2 separate regions of the Homo sapiens genome follow, and region 2 is linked to region 1. Evidence: fine-mapped expression QTL. A gene starts in region 1. The other region holds a variant in brackets. All regions are shown on one strand. Distances are from middle to middle.

Region 1 (8,336 bases):
TGTTGATGCTATTCATTTTCTTAACAGAATATTTTACCTAATTCCTTCTGATAATATTAAAATTTAAAAGTACAAGATTTCTTGTTGATCCCTTTCTTGTGCTGATTATATTTCCCTTCTAACTCTCCAAGAGCATATCTGAGCACATACTTGCAGACCTGTCATACTGATGAGTGCAGAGCTCCACCGCAGGCAATCCTAGAGATTGGGATCTTAAATTTCTCCCAGAGTGTCCTACACTCCCCATCCATTCATGGTAAAGTATTTAATTTTAATGTTCTCATTGTTTACCAGAAAGCACAGACAGTGAGGCTGGCTTTGCCACTCCCGTTTCCTTTCGCTATGCTGCTGAGCTTTTTCAGCCAATTGACTTTGCTTTGAGGCTATAAATATCTGAAAAATGTTCTGCATTTGATGCTCTTGGATTCTGTATCCATATTTAGCTGTTTGTGGCATGCCTTTGTTTAAGCTACTCTACCACCCATACAGTCAGTCAGGTTGAGATCTGGATGGTCAAAGGACAAACGGATCAACATACAACAGACACTGACTTACTATGAGCAAGGTACCAATCTGGCAGACAAGTTGACAATGAAGGGGGTGGCAAGATAAGAATACAAAGATAAACAAGGCTCCCTGATATCAAAAATTTTATAGTCTTGACAAGGCATGGGCACAACTTATAATACTGGAATAAAACAAATGAAACATTTTACAACTACAAGGAAATGAAGATTAGGACAGACAGCACAAATATTTTTCTCTCAGCCACATCTCAAAAATGTGCATTAGTTTGTGTTCTAAATATAGAGCCACCTATTATAAAGCTCTGAACATATTCCAGAAAAGTTTTCCAAATCATGGCAATACACAAAACCCTGAGTATACGTATTATGACAATATATACATATGTACACAATATATATGTATTATCAACCAAGGAGCCAAACCTGTCAACAAGAAACTCAAAACAGTGCCTAGTCTTCAAATTTTGTGAGGCAAACTAATAAAATATTGTTTCTAGAAGTTCCTGTTAAGATATTCTTTGGGGGGTTACTTCTGTTGTTGTTTGTTCCCATCATGATTTCAAACAGAAGTATATTGCAGGAGATGCAAATTGCACTTAATAAAGTTCCTTATTATTATCCTACCTTTAGAACCCACATGGCTATGTAGGTTAGGTCTCAAAACTGGATGAACTAGACCTAAGCAACATCGCCATACTCATCTTCCTATCTTGTGAAAACATTCCAAATAAATAAACATCTGCCTTCAATATATCTTCTTTGAAAACTCAGTTCACTGACCTTTTGATAAAACTGCTCCCCAGAATTCCCTGACAATCATGATTTAAATGCATTAAGTTAAGGGCTTGGTTAATGCCTGGCCCCAAGAGCCAGGATAAAGATTATAGGCCAACCTGCAGGTAAAATAATGGGCCAAGCCACAGAATCAGACAACTTTAAAGCTAAAAGGGACCACAGATACCAATTACTCCAGATTCCACTTTTATGCTGAAACCTAGAGGCCATGAGTTAAAACTACCTGCCCAGAATTAGACAACCAACTTGTGGCAAAGCCAGAATGAAACCAATACTCTAAGCTTCTAGTTGTATCCTCTAGACTAGGTTCCCAATTTGTAGATTTCCCTGAAACATGTTAGACTACACTCATCAAAGTCTCTTTAAATTGTGAGAAGAACCTAGGTGATCCAAGACAACGAAGGTTTTGAACACACAGACAAGAAACAAGAAAAACAAAAATTCTGTATTCTCCAAATTGTTTTTCTACATTCTATTACTTTTATTTCAAAGTTTTTACTTCAAAGTTTTCAAACATACACCCTGTTCATACAATAGGCAACTTAAAACTAGCTAAGGACATAGCCAAGAGTCATTCCAATAGTTCTGAAATATTTACATAAACTAAAGACAACAAAATAGTATCCAGGATGAGCTGCCTCAGAGGAAGGAAAGTAGCAATACTAAACAATAAATAAAAACAACTTCTGGTTAATTGATAGAGAAAACAAAAAAAGTTACAATGCAGTGGTAAGTCTGCAATTGGTCACAAAAATGCAAGGCATGGTATGTATATGTGTGTGTCACACACATATACATACCATGCATTTCTGTGATGTCTGATATGAAGTCTTGACATCAATTGAACCACGCAGAAAGAAAACTTCTAAGTCGTGGTCACTCTTGAACAATAAACATATATCCTGTTCAGAAGGACGAAAGAAAAAAAACATAATGTAAACTTGCTCTCACTCTCTCTCTCTCTTACACACACACACACACACACACAAAATATACAATATATATTTCACAAATCAACCCCTAGGAATGGACTACAAAACAACATACATTTGTAGACTTTTATGTCCTTACAAATGAAGAACGATAGTTAACACTAGGTCCAGAGAACCCAGATTGTTTTGGATACTGAAATACCGAATTATCATATACATGTATTCTTAGAATAGCATGGCCCTATTTCTAACATCACACAAATAAACAGTATGCCAAAGAAGTGTGTAAGGAGAGAAAGATGATAGAATGGGAAAACGTTGTAACTACAATATACTCTAATTCATATGCACTTTCAGATTCTCACCAACCTTTGTTCTAAATGACCAGCTAAGTGGGATTTAGCAGGCAGACGGAAAATCAGGCACCAAAGTTTTTAATCTAATTTGCTGAGAACAAACTGGGTGACCTTGCATCGTCTCCCACTCCTTTGCTTTAAATCTTCCGGTACGTAGAGTAACATCAAGAAACAGCCAGCAAAATACAAAGTGGTACACAAATCCTTAAGAACTGGTTATAAGAAGAATTCCTGGATTTTTATGATTAAAAGGGTCACTAGTGATGATTTAATCCAATCCACTCACTTTACAGATGAGGAATCACAAGCCAAAAATGTGACTCGATCTGCCCCAAATCCCATAGCCATTTAGTGGTAGAACTGAGACAAGAACTGAGATCTCTGGACTCCTAGTTCTATGATCTTTGCGATGGACATTAAGTCTTCAAATCAACTGAACTACACAGAAAAAAACCTAAGTCTTGGTCACTCTTGAATAGTAAGCATATACCCTGTTCAGAAAGATGAAAGAAAAAAACATAAGGTACTTGATCACTACAGGCTTAGATGCACAAGACTGCAGGATAACATCTTAACATTGTGTTTGATCCCAGGTGCTTCAAATTTGCCATCTTATACTCAGCCACGTTACTAATGTCTTCTGCAGTCACGTGAGCTAGGCGATAAACATCTTGCCGTTTCAATATTTTGGAAAGCCACAGCTCAGTCCTGAATGCCAGGCTATAAATCCTTAAGCTATGAGTTTTCAAAACCAGCATGGTTTTAGTGCTGCCACAAGGCTCACCCTAATAGAATCTCATCATTCAGTTTTAATTAAAGAGGTGGTTACCAGGAATGCAGAAAGGGAAAGTTTTAGTGTGTTCATCACTTTTAACCTGCTGAGTGGCAACCCAGTCACTTTACAACGAGATTCAGAAACAATAGTGTAATCTGAAACAATCCACACCCGTTGGAATAAGTGGTTGCTTTTAGAGAGAGTGAGGTTCAGGCAGAGGTTATAGATTAGTCTTGCTCCCACCAAATACATAGTTTGCATTTTTTTCATTCATTAGCTTATCCTCTGCTTTTTCATAATATCTTGGTTTCCAGTCTTGCCTCATTCAACAATAAAAAGAGACGAAAATCCATTCACTTGGTTTCATGGAGTTTTTCCATCATACCTTCTTGAAGATTGATTGCCTGGCTGTTCCCTTGAAGTAATCGCCTAAGAATTACGTCTTGGATAGCCCAACTCCCGCATTAAACTTACTGCAGGTGTCTGAAGAGGTCCAAAGACCATACTGAGTGACATCCCTGCCCAAGTGATAGTCTGAAGAAACTTGTCAGAAATGCACCCCCAGAACAAAAAGGGATGTGGGAAACTGACCTAGCACGGATGAGGACTGGGAATGAGCCTGTGACTTAGGGAATGAATTTCAGCCCAAGCAAAAATAGGAAACACCAGCCTCTAAGACGGCCTGTGGTCCTTACCGTACACCCGGACCCAGCTCTGTTGCTGGCACACGGACTCCAGAAGGATCCGATCCAACATGCCACCGGCGACGGCTCCACTGACTGGGACAACCGCGTCCAGGTCCTCCGGGGGCAGCGGCGAGTCGGACTCCAGCGCCGGGAACATCTCCGGCCAGGACAGCGCCTCCGCGGCTCCTCCGGACGACGGAGAGAGCTCCATGGTGCCCCGAGGCGGGAGGGGGACGAGGCGGCGGCTTCGGGGCGGGCTGGCGCGCGGCTCCGCGCCCTGCCTGCGGTAAGGGGAGGAGGAGAGCGCGCAGCGAGGGCAGGGACCCGAGCGGCAGCCGGCGCGGACACCTCTCACCTCCTTCCCCGTCGCCCACTGCCCGAGGCTCGGGCGATGCAGCCCACCTGCAGTCGGCGGGCGGGACCCAGGCCGGGAGGAGGATCCAGCGTGGCCCCGACCAAGGGTGGGTCCGGGCTCAGGTGTGTGTGGGTCCCTCCCGGGAGAGGACGCAGAAGAACCCGGGAGGGGAGGCTCGCCCTCCCACCTCCTCGGAGCCGCCTTCTTCAGCCCCGCCGGCGTCTCTCGCGGTCAGACCAGGCTCTGGCTGGGGATGGAGCGGGGCCGGGCAGGGCTGGGCTTGGGGGCGTCGCCGCCAGGGGCCGCCCCCTCTGACCGGCTCCCGCCGCCGCCGCCTCAGAAGCTCCGAGTGCCCGTTCCCTCAGCCTGAGGAGGGGTAGGGGGCGGTGGCCCCGGGTTCTAGCCCGCCTGTCCTCGGCCCCCACTTCTGGAATGAGCCTGCCCGCCCCCTGACTCTCAGGCCACAGCTCCGGCCACAGCTCTGGCTCCTGCTCCGCGGCGGATCCCACAAACCCGGCAGCCACGGCGGTGGCGGTGGCGGTGGCGGTGGCGGTGGCGGCGGCGGCGGCGGCGGCAGCGGCAGGCGGCATCCCAGGGTGATAGGCTGAAGCAATCGAGGGCCGAGAGCCCGGCCGCGTGTGCACTCGAGTAACGAAGCCGGGGAGGGACTGCGCCGCAGGCAGGAAAAGTCGGACACCGAATTATTCATCCGGCCTGTCCCGCCTACTTTCCAAGTACCCTCCCAGGGATAGCCGGGTATTGAGCGGTCCGGGTCTCTGCTGCTCAAAGTAAAGACCGTTTGAGAAGGCGGGGAGGTAAAAGGGTGCGGGAAATTTAAACAGAAAAGAAAGGAGCTTCCCTTCCTTCTCACACCTTTCCTATTTATTTGTTTCTTTCTTTCTTTATGGGCCAACGTTTCTTTCTTATTGGACAAAGAGATCGAAGAAGCTGCTTTATCTTACAGTCACCCAAGGGGGAGCGCCTTCTTCCTTCCCAGAGTGGAGTGGCAGTGGGTCCGGGATTCTGGGATATGCACAGGGTCTGCGCCCTGCGCCCTGTCCGCGCTGAAGCTGAACTTGTCATTGGTTTGCAACAGCATGGTGAAGAAGTGTGGTGTGGATGGACGGACGGGCCTCTCAGGCACATGAAATACTCAAAGCCCAGTATTAACCAAACATGTTTCTCTGTTTTGTCTTTGATCTTTGTGCAGTGTGTTGGCTTTTTTCCTTTAATGATGTCACTTGTATTTTATTTTTGGTTTATTTGTAGACTGTCTCCCTCCTTGGCCATGGCTTTACTTTTATGTCCACCCAAGGAGAGTTTCACCAGTTTAGGTTTAAGAAATTACTGACAAGTTAACAATAATAATTTCAAAATTGAACAGTAATAACTTAAACCGTGCCTTGGACATAGTAGATCTCCAACAGTTTTTCTTGAATGTGGCTACCTAATGTGGAACAAGATTTTTCATAATTACATGTTGCTATTTTTAATACCTTTTGGGAGGTTCTTTAGTCCCCCCCGCCCTTTCTCCCTACGTTGCACAAAGAGACTGGTCTACAAGGGGTCCTGTTAGTTTTCTGGTTTTGTGGGGTCCTGGAATATTGTTTGGGCTTATTGAGAGTTAACAAGGATGTATTTTGTGAGTTTCTCCAAAGTCTTATTTAGAGTAATAGTATTTCAAAGCAAGAAGTGTTTTAGAGAGAACATCATTCTGCCTCTTGTTTAACAGGTGAGGAAACTGAGGAAAAACCAGCTTACCTGGCTAATCAACCACAAGTACAGATAGTTCCACAATGACTCAATGGATATTACTTCAACTTTGTTCCCTCAAGAAACTTTTGTGATTAAGCTTGTTGATTTGTGGCTTGATGGTTTACAGGAATGGTCATTTTTAATATCTAGGACCCTGCTTGCTTGCTTGCTTGCTTGCTTACTAGACTGGCTGCATAGTCAGTCTTCCACGTGTAAACAACAGTGTGTGCTTTAGTGGATAAGAGATGTTGAGTGCTGAGATTTCAAGGCTCAGCACTGAGTAGACCTAGAGCATTTTTATTTATACTAAATTAATGCCATGGTAACATAAGTTAGACAGCAAGTGAATATGGCATCAAATGTACAAAGTTGAGTATCTCTTTACTAGTCAATGTATAAGGAATTTATTTACCCAAGCAATTATCTTAAAAACAGCATTACAAGTGGTATGCGAAACATTTCCAGAATTTATTTCCACATCTGCTCTTTCAGTGGCATCATCCATTCCTGAGCTCAAGAAAAGGCCTCTGCCAACCGCCAGTAATCCTGCTTTTTTAGTAATCCTACTATTTTTTTTTTAACTTTAAGTTCTGGGATACATGTGCAGAACATGCAGGTTTGTTACATAGGTATACATGTGCCTATGTATACCTATGTAACATGGTGGTTACAGTAAACATGGTGGTTTACTGCATCTATCAACCCGTCATCTAGGTTTTAAGCCCTGCATTCATTAGATATTTGTCCTAATGCTCTCCCTCCCCTTTCCCCCACGCCCCGACAGGCCCCAGTATGTGATATTACCCTCCCTGTGTCCATGTGTTCTCATCGTTCAACTCCCACTTATAAGTGAGAATATGCAGAGTTTGGTTTTCTGTTGTGTTACTTTGCTTAGAATGATGGCTCCCAGCTTCATCCATGTCCCTGCAAATGACATGAACTCATTCTTTTTTATGGCTGCATAGTATTCCATGGTGTATATGTGCCACATTGTCTTTATCCAGTCTATCATCGATGGCATTTGGGTTGGTTCCAAGTCTTTGCTATTGTAAATAGCACTGCAATAAACATACATGTGCATGTGTCTTTATAGTAGAATGATTTATAATCCTTTGGGTATATACCCAGTAATGGGATTGCTGGGTCAAATGGTATTTTGGTTCTAGATCCTTGAGGAATCGCCACAGTGTCTTCCACAATGGTTGAACTAATTTACACTCCCACCAACAGTGTAAAAGCATTCCTATTTCTCCATAGCCTTGGCAGAATCTGTTGTTTCCTGACTTTTTAATAATCACCATTCTCACTGGCGTGAGGTGGTATCTCACTGTGGTTTTGATTTGCATTTCTCTAATGACCAATGATGATGAACTTTTTTTCATATGTTTATTGGCTGCATAAATGTCTTCTTTTGAGAAGTGTCTGTTCATATCCTTTGCCCACTTTTTGATGGGGTTGTTTGTTTTTTTCTTGTAAATTTGTCTAAGTTCCTTGTAGATTCTGGACATTAGACCTTTGTCGGATGGGTAGATTGCAAAACTTTCTCCCATTCTGTAGGTTGCCTGTTCACTCTGATGATAGTTTCTTTTGCTGTGCAGAAGCTCTTTAGTTGGATTAGATCCCATTTGTCAATTTTGGCTTTTGTTGCAATTGCTTTTGGTGTTTTAGTCATGAAGTCTTTGCCCATGCCTATGTCCTGAATGGTATTGCCTAGATTTTCTTCTAGGGTTTTTATGGTTTGGGGTTTTACATTTAAGTCTTTAATCCATTTTCAATAATCCTACTTTTTAAATCCAAACGTTCCAGATACTGGTCCCTGCTTCACCTCCCTATCCTGACCCCAGACTAGCAGCAGGTCATTATCTAATTGCCTAAGTAATAGTATGTCTGAAATTTATCTAGTGTTCATAACTTAAAAATAAAATACTTTCACAGGCCAGGCATGGTGGCTTACACCTATAATCATAGTGCTTTTAGAGGCTGAGGCAGGAGGACCACTTGAGCCCCAGGAGTTTGTGACCAGCCTGGACAACATAGTGAGACCCTCATCTCTACAAAAAAATAGAAAAAAATTAACTGGGCCTGGTTGCAAACACCTGTAGTCCCAGCTACTCAGGAGGCTGAGGCAGGAGAATCACTTGAGTCCAGGAGTTTG
Region 2 (8,336 bases), 130 kb after region 1:
TTAAAATAATATACATTTATTGTAGAAAAGTTAGAAAATATGGATAAGCAAGAGGAAGAAAATAAAATCATCCACCATTCCATTACCTGGTGGATAACTACTGATAACACGTTGATGTAGATCTTCTCAACTTGTTTTCTAAATTTTTACTTTCAGTAAAGGATTAGGATGAAGCCTGAGGGATGTCTTAAATGCTGAGCTGCCCTTTGCAAGAGTAACCAGTCATTAAATCACAGTGCTCAAGGATTCCTGGCAAACCTGACCTAGATCTAGGTGGGTGTTCACATCCATCAGCACTAATCCGGTGGCTAAACATTAGCAGCATCATTAACAGTGATAATACTTTTGCTAGACAGGTGTCAAACTAGGGTAGTGTCTTAGTCAGTTTGGGTTACTGTAACAGAAAACCATAGACTAGGGCTTAAACAACAGAAATTTATTTCTCACCCTTCTGGAGGCTGGGAAGTCCAAGATCAAGATTCCAGCAGATCTGGTGTCTGGTGAGGGCCACTTCCTGGTTTGCAGATGGCCATCTTTTGGTTGTATTCTTACACACCAGAGAGCAGAGAGAGAGAGGAGAAGCAAACCCTCTTGTGTCTTTTTATAAGGGAACTAATTCCATTGACAAGGCTCCACTCTCATGCCCTAATTACTTCTTGGAGGCCTACCTCCTAATACCATCACATTGGGAGTTAGGTTTTCAACATATGAATTTTGGGAGGAAACAGACATTCAGTTCACAGCAGGCAGTTACTCTTGTTTGAAGCTAGACCCTAGACAGTGCTGTCCGGCATTTGGAAAGGAGGATGGAGACTGGGAAAGGAAATTCACATAAATTAGTAAACTTCTAGGACTCCAATCCTGGTGCATAGTTGGGATGCAGGGCAGGAATCAAGTATGAGGACAGAGCACTTGGGGCAGGATGATGTGAAGACTGTAGCCATTTGGGCATGAGGGAGCCTACTGGATTATCCAAGAACACTGCAGCCAGGACTTGGGGTGGCAAGACTCATTCTGGTCCACCTCCTGGTGGGGATTGAGCTCCTAATGTATTGTCAAACTGGGTCAATTTGGTTTAGAAATCAGGAAGAATTGAGCTGCCAGGTCGAAAGACTTAGTAATTGTAGTTATGTGGGGCTGGGAAGGTAGGAAATGATAAATCCTAAACCCTTTGGAGTGGTGAGATCCCATCACAATCTAGTTAATTTTGTGACCCATATAACTGTTGTATGCCATATGTCTATATAGAATAATTAAAGCTAATTAGAATTAATTTTGGTTGGTGAGTGTTTGAAGAGTTTCATAATAACTCTAGAGATAATTAGAGATACTTTGGGATGTCACAAAATAAGCATTTAGAATAATTTGACTAGATGTTTAAGCCAGGGTTGTGCAATGAAGGCTAGTAACAGAATGACAATTCTATAATTGCAAGAATGCTGAATCAGGAAGTAAGAGTTTGGGGTTCAAATCAGTATGCTGCTAAACAGGTTCTCTGAAATAAACCAGCAACCCACCAACAACCTTGCTTTGTAGCAGTTGCCAATTTCTGTGGTGTAAATACTCCCACCATGGTGGATTTCAAGTTTTCCATGGTTTAACAACCGGCTCACACAATTCCTGAATATTTAATAATCAGCTCTTACTAAACTTGCACTGGTGTGCAAGGCAGCTAGAGCACACCAGTGTAATTTTCACTGAACTTCTAGGTAACTTTGTGATCTTGGGTAAATCATTTCACTTGTTTGGATCTTGGTTTTATCATCAAAAAAGCATAGTTGCTAAAATAACCTCTAAGGTCCTTTTCAAAGTTAACATTCCCATAATGCAGCTGGTGTTACAGGGCAAGACTAATGTCACATTATATGCCAAAAGAGTGACATCAAGAACTTTTGTGAATGTTGTTGTGATATATCAGAACATATAATTTGATATCACGTCAGTGTAATCATCACCCACATTCTGATTCCTGCTGTTAATGTGCATGTTCTTCTCTAGTTCCTCTTCCCAGAAGGATTAAAAACAACAGTGCAGCCATTAGAGAGCCAAACTTCACAGCCCAAGAGTGAGGTAAGAAACCATTAGTGGCTAGGCATGGTGGCTTACGCCTGTAATCCCAGCACTTTGGGAGGCTCAGGCAGGTGGATCACAAGGTCAGGAGTTTGAGACCAGCCTGGCCAACATGATGAAACCCCTTCTTTACTAAAAATACAAAAATTAGCCAGGGGTGGTGGCACGCACCTGTAATCCCAGCTACTCGGGAGGCTGAGGCAGGAGAATTGCTTGAACCTGGGAGGTAGAGGTTGCAGTGAGCTGAGATTGTACCATTAAACTCCATCTCTGGGCGACAGAGAAAGACTCTGTCTTGGAAAAAAAAAAAAAGAAACCATTAGCTACAGTCAGAGAATTCTATGCTCAGTTGCTGGGTTCTAGAGTCAGCTGAGGGGCTGAGAGAAAATCTTGTAGCTTAGGTACATGACCCTATATGACCATGAGACCCAAGAGGGGTGGTTTTCCCTGGACTAGTAAGGACAGACATGAGAGACTAATTTGTGTCTTTTATATTTATGTGTGTCAAATCCTGGCCCTTAATAGGAACACAGTAAGCATTTGTTGAGAGAAAGAATAAACCATTTGGGATTTTTTAAAAGAGCAAATTCAGAATTTTAAAATATTAATTCAGAAGTAGTCATGTGCTTTTCTGCGTTTACCTTAATAATGCAGAAGAAATGTATATTTCAAGTGCGAGAAACTACTTTCTTGTTATAATGGAAAACTTTTTAGTGCCTTCAGTTCAGTACTGGGGATATAAATCTGCCTTCCAGCTAGATGACAGAATTTATTACATAACCAGAACCCAATGGTGAGAAATATACATAAGAAAAACCCACACTGGGCAAACCAGGTGTTTGCTCCCACCAGTGAGCGTGTCCCCTTCCCCATGTGCCTCAACCAGTGGAATTAACTTGTCTCTTTGGGAAGGAAAAGATAATATTGATCTGCAGGGCATACTTACCTATATATCATGTGCTGCTTTACCAACATTTCAGCCCCGTAATGACCCTCATAAGCTAAGCATTGCCATTCCCATTTTAAAGAAAAAGAAACTGAAACTCGGAGAGGTTAAGTAACAGAACCAGCTAGTGGTAGAGCCCCGAGTTAACACCCCAAAGGTGGTGCTTTTCTCGCCAGACCAGGCTGCCTTGGGGCTTCTGGACTTCCTCTTCCTGATGTCTCTCTTCCGTGATTGCTGTGGGAATTTGGATGATTTCTCATGTGAGTGAACCTGGCTCAGCCCATGCTCAGGCAAACAGAAGCGCCAGTCTCTGACAGGGTTCTGAGCAAATTCGTCAAGTCAGGCGGGTCCTGGGCTGCGGTATCTGGGCTGTACTTTGCCCTAATGAATCAGCTCCATGGAGGTTGGGCAGTTGCAAAGGTAACTGACATGATGTAGATCTGAGGGCCTGGGGAGTCTTGGTAGATGTGGCACCTGGACTTTGACAGTCTCCAAGAGGAGAGGAGGCACTCTTGGGCCAGGTCCCTGGAGCAGCGCTGAAGGAAGGTGGGAAGCCATCAGAGCAGGTGTGTGGGAACACTCGCTCCCTTCTTTCCCCTCTTTGAGCTGGACGTGCTGTGCCGTCAGATTAGGAAAGGCAAGATTGCCTTTACTGGGGCTAGGAAAGGTCATCTACATGAATGTGTGAGTCTGATTTGTCATCATAGATGTAATTCCTTCATTTTGAGAATCGAAGGTGTTATTTATTTGGTGTCCTTAATCTGAGGACTGATTTGCTGGAGTTGATGTCTCTTGGCAGCAAAATGATGTGATTTCAGTGGAAAGATTGGGTGTTGCACCTTTGCAGTTGGGAAAGGGCTGCCTAATGAGACTATCTGGGGACAAGGAGAAAGCAGGTTTCTTCTCATTCTGCTTACTTGGTCCAAATGGTTTTGAGTTCCACCAGCCTTCAGAAAAGGCTCATGTGCCCTTCCCTGTGTCTGGGACATTTGGCCTTTCCTGGGATTTGCTGGCAAAGGCTGTCATTGCACCTGGCTTTTTCAAGGGAGTGAGATGATATGGGAAGGAAGCCAGAGGTTCCCCTGAGTTGTGAGTGACCTTGAGGTGGGAGGCCCCCTCCGCACCTTGTTCTTCTTGTGTGTTCTGC[C/T]GTCTCATAGCTCTTGGCTCATAGCTGTCGACCTCGGCTCCCTGGTGTTTGAGCAGAGTGACGTCTCAATTTCAACACCCACTCTTTTGACCTTTTGTTCTGATATGAATTTTTATATGAGGCTGGGACCTTCAGTAGTGGAAACAAGTTAACTGATTTGATCAGAATCTTGCAACCTAAAACAGTTCCTAAGGAAGAAAAAAATCGAGGCCGACCTAGCCTGTGGATGCTCCTGACACAAGGAATCCCTGAGCAAGAGTAAGATCTGAGGCGTGCTTTCCTTTTGTGGGTGCAACCCCTGTCCCCCGCTACCCCGTGCAATGGGCAGAGGAACCTGGAAGGTAATCAGTCCTTGGAGCAATTTCCCTTTTTCAGGATTACGTGGGGGAAAATTAGTTTGATGCTAGGGAGACTTTCAGCATTTAAAATCTCCAACCGGGAAGAATCCTGAGATATGGCCTTCTATTTTCTTATGAAAACAATCCCAAATTTGCCTCTTGTTGGCTCCTCTGGAGGAGGAGCAGGTATGACCATATTATATAGGTTCTAGTTCTTTGAGGGGGTTAATGTAAGGATTCAGAAAAGGTGCTTCTTGAAAAGGTCAGTCTAAATTTCTTTTTGTTTAATAAACATCTTCAGCCACTCATACTACCCTAATCTTTATCCTTGATAACACTGCTATTTATTGAGCATTTTAACATGTTAGGTAACATGTTACGCACTTCGCATAGGTTATCTTTAACTCTGTCAATAACCTTGCAAGGTAGTCCTTACAGTCTCCATTTCATGGGTAAGGAAATTGAGGCTTGAAAAAATGAACTAGCTAGTTAAGTGGCAGAGTTAGGATTTGAACTCTGATCTAGCTCTCTGCAAGACCCACTCTGTTTATGATACCACAGGGCCTCCGCTGTAAGTGTTAAATAAACACTTGCTGGGGGAATATGTGAAGAAACATCAACTGGGATTCCTTGATAGCATTTTTAGCTGTACCTATTATTGTTATCTGTCTCCCTTGCCTCCCTCATCTGTCGTTGTTCCACATGTACTTTTTAATTTTTTAAGCAATATTAATATAATTGTCTAGTCTGTTATTTGCTTCATGTATCTGAGATTGTTTCTCAGATTTCTCTGTATCCGTGACCATATGGTTTGTTTTAGATATATTTCGAGGACCATAGCTGCTCTTTTCACAAAACCTAATCAACCACTATGTTTGGATATAGGCTTCAAGTGATGATTTTTTCCTTTTTCTTTTGTCTGCAGGAAGATAAAATAACTGCACAACTTACTCAAAACCCAGGACAAATTCAGAGAGTCAAGGATGGAACTTTGGGCTCCCCAGAGGCTGCCCCAGACACGAGGGAAGGCCACAGCACCCTCAAAGGATCCAGACCGAGGGTTTCGGAGAGATGGACATCATCGGCCTGTCCCTCACTCTTGGCACAATGGAGAGAGGTTTCACCAATGGCAAGACAACCGTGGGAGCCCCCAGCCACAGCAGGAGCCCAGGGCAGACCATCAGCAGCAGCCCCATTATGCATCCAGGCCAGGGGACTGGCATCAGCCTGTGTCTGGAGTTGACTATTACGAAGGTGGTTATCGCAATCAGTTGTATTCAAGGTATGGCTTTAGGGCTTGGAATGAATGCAACTCTCCTAAATGCGTATGAATAGGTTGTTCTTTTCCTTCTTCCTTTTCCTTTTATTTTTCTCCCCCTTTTTTCTTTTTCCTTCTCTACCTTACTACGTGGCTTTAGCTAAATCCTGTCCTCTCCCAAATTTGTTTTTGATGACTGAAGATAGTATTTCTCTCCTGTTTTTCCCCTAGTGGAGCTTCTTAAAGAAGCCATCACAAATGCCACTGGGTATGGGGGCTTGGGGAGGCAGTGTCAAGGGTAGAAAAAGTGGTGAAATTCAAGACAGCAGATGGAACCCTCTTGCTCTGGGATTGCAAAAGTTCATTTATGTAGACTATGGAAAAGCTTTTCTTGGAGATCCCTATAAGGAGTTCCTCGTTGTCATTGGACCACTCTACCTTGGGATTAGCATGACACTACCAGCACCAAGAAGAGTCCTAGTGCCTACGACAGTACCCGGAATGGAACAGGCATACCAATAATCTGTATTGAATGAATGGGAACTTAAAAAAAATTGACCTCAGGGAAAGCAGATAGAAACCTGCAGGCTCCAAGTTCGGAAGGAAGAGGTTGCAGTGAGGTCATTCTATCCAGGTTGGAGAATCTGGAATTCCTGCTTCCCTGGTCTGTAAGCACTGGACTTAATATTTCATGGAATGTTGGAAGCCGTCTATGTTCTACTTCAGCTTTTCCAGTTGGGGTGATATTTACCTGCTTACAGATTCAGGGTTGAAATTATGACAATTATTATAAAGAAATTTATCCCTAAGAAATACTAAAGAATTGCTAATTGGGCCAGGCTCCTGGATCACGCCTGTAATCCCAGCACTTTGGGAGGCCAAGGCAGGCAGATCATCTGAGGTTGGGAGTTCGAGACCAGCCTGGTCAACATGGTGAAACCCCGCCTCTACTAAAAATACAAAACAAAACAAAAAAATTAGCTGGGCGCGGTGGTGCATGCCTGTAATCCCAGCTACCTGGGTAGAGACGGGAGAATCACTTAAACCCGGGAGATGGAGGTTGCAGTGAGCCAAGATCACGCCACTGCACTCCAGCCTGGGTGACAGAGTGAGGCTCTGTCTCAAAAAAAAAAATTATTAATTGATAAAAACATTAATATTATGATGTTCCTCTCCCCAGTCTTTTTGGATTGTTGAATTCTCAAAGAGAGGCGTGTTCAGGACAGAGGCAATAAAAGTAATCAGACTTAACATAGTCCAGTTTGACTTTTAAATCTCAACTCCATCTGGGATAAGCATGGAAATTACGGTGGTGTATTGGAGACTTAACACAGTCATCTCAGGAAGTGGTTTTCTCAGATAATATCAGGATGGAGTTTTCTAAGATAATATGTATGTGTTTGGGGAGTGAGAGTTTTACTACAAAATAAAAGAGTTTTAAATAAAAAAGAGGTTTTTAGAAAAAGAGTTTTAAGTAAAAAAAATTGTACTATAAAAATTCTACTCCTGTTGTGCAACAAAGGCCTGACTCCTGCTTTGATTCTGTTTACAGGATCTAGAATTAACTGTGGCTTTCAAGCAGATTCTAGGCTGGGGTCACAACTCTGTCCTCTGAACCTGTTTAGTTTGTCAAGTTCTTCATTGGTTTCTCTCTTTACTACCCTTGTCCTCAACTGACCAGTCTTCTTTGTGATATTTTAGGCCAGGTTATGAGAATTCATATCAGAGCTATCAGTCTCCCACAATGAGGGAGGAATATGCTTATGGAAGTTATTACTATCATGGACACCCACAGTGGCTGCAGGAAGAAAGAGGTATGGAAAAGTCTCCAAGAAGCCTCTGGGATTTGGGGATGGGGCAGCTGGTCTGAGAGGCAGGGGAGAGACCAAAGGAGCCATGTTCAGACCCTCACCTTGGGCATCCTTTCTTGGCCAGACGAGACCATAGCAGAAACACTCCTCCTAGATGTCCTGAGAAGAGATATAAAGGAGTTGTTTTCCTTTGTATGCATAGATGATGGTACTGTTACTAGCACTATGGGTAGTTTGTACTTCATCCATGTTTTTTCTCCTACTTTGCCTTATAGCCCAGATTATATAGTCTTTGACCAAGTAACAGTGAAGTCAGTTCTTAAGGACATCTGCTGGGCTATAGTAAGAGTGTATCACTTCACCCTGAGGACAGCAGATATGCACCCAAATGAGTGTTCTACCGTATGCTAATAGGTATAGGGTGTGTCTTAATGGCAGCATCTGAACTGCTAGGAAAGATAAATCTGTTTCAACATTGAACACACACACACACACCAATCCCCATCGTTGTGCGGTTGTATAGATCCATGCTAACTAGTTCAGAGGGGACTGAGAGGCGTCCTATGGACTTTCTTTATTAGCTCTCACCTATCTATTTTTTCAATTTGGAAAATATGTTTTTAGATCTACTGTGCTCCAGGAGCTCCTCACAGCTCACTAATATCTTTCTAAGAACTTTCAGAAACAGGAAGTGACCTGTCTTGATTTTGTTTTCTCTGAGGGTGCAGTGCCAAGGCAACGGAGTCCTTATATCTGGCACGAAGAT

Direction of the effects. Positions count from the first base shown, and alleles are read on the strand shown. Sizes are in standard deviations (SD) of each study's normalised expression.
For the expression in tibial nerve of the gene that starts at base 4,671 in region 1, C is the low allele of the variant in region 2 and T is the other (small effect, 0.20 SD a copy in GTEx).

The links.
Region 2: its variant is fine-mapped to the expression of RASAL2 in tibial nerve (GTEx, PIP 0.96).

The regions. Positions count from the first base shown.
Region 1 is chr1:178,090,439-178,098,774 of GRCh38, reverse strand. It overlaps RASAL2 (RAS protein activator like 2), which reads right to left and starts at 4,671. Exons shown (of 18, transcript NM_170692.4): 1 at 4,081-4,671. The coding sequence starts at 4,282. RASAL2-AS1 (RASAL2 antisense RNA 1) reads left to right here and starts at 4,782. Exons shown (of 2, transcript NR_027982.1): 1 at 4,782-5,214; 2 at 5,363-7,267. RefSeq lists silencers at 4,233-4,292, 4,443-4,602, 4,673-4,972, 5,023-5,072 and an enhancer at 4,694-5,195.
Region 2 is chr1:177,965,130-177,973,465 of GRCh38, reverse strand. It overlaps CRYZL2P-SEC16B (CRYZL2P-SEC16B readthrough), which reads left to right. Exons shown (of 32, transcript NM_001356506.2): 8 at 5,427-5,783; 9 at 7,461-7,573; 10 at 8,299-8,336. The coding sequence starts at 5,485. SEC16B (SEC16 homolog B, endoplasmic reticulum export factor) reads left to right here and starts at 3,408. Exons shown (of 26, transcript NM_033127.4): 1 at 3,408-3,582; 2 at 5,427-5,783; 3 at 7,461-7,573; 4 at 8,299-8,336. The coding sequence starts at 5,485. The variant C/T (reference allele first, on the strand shown) is at 4,164.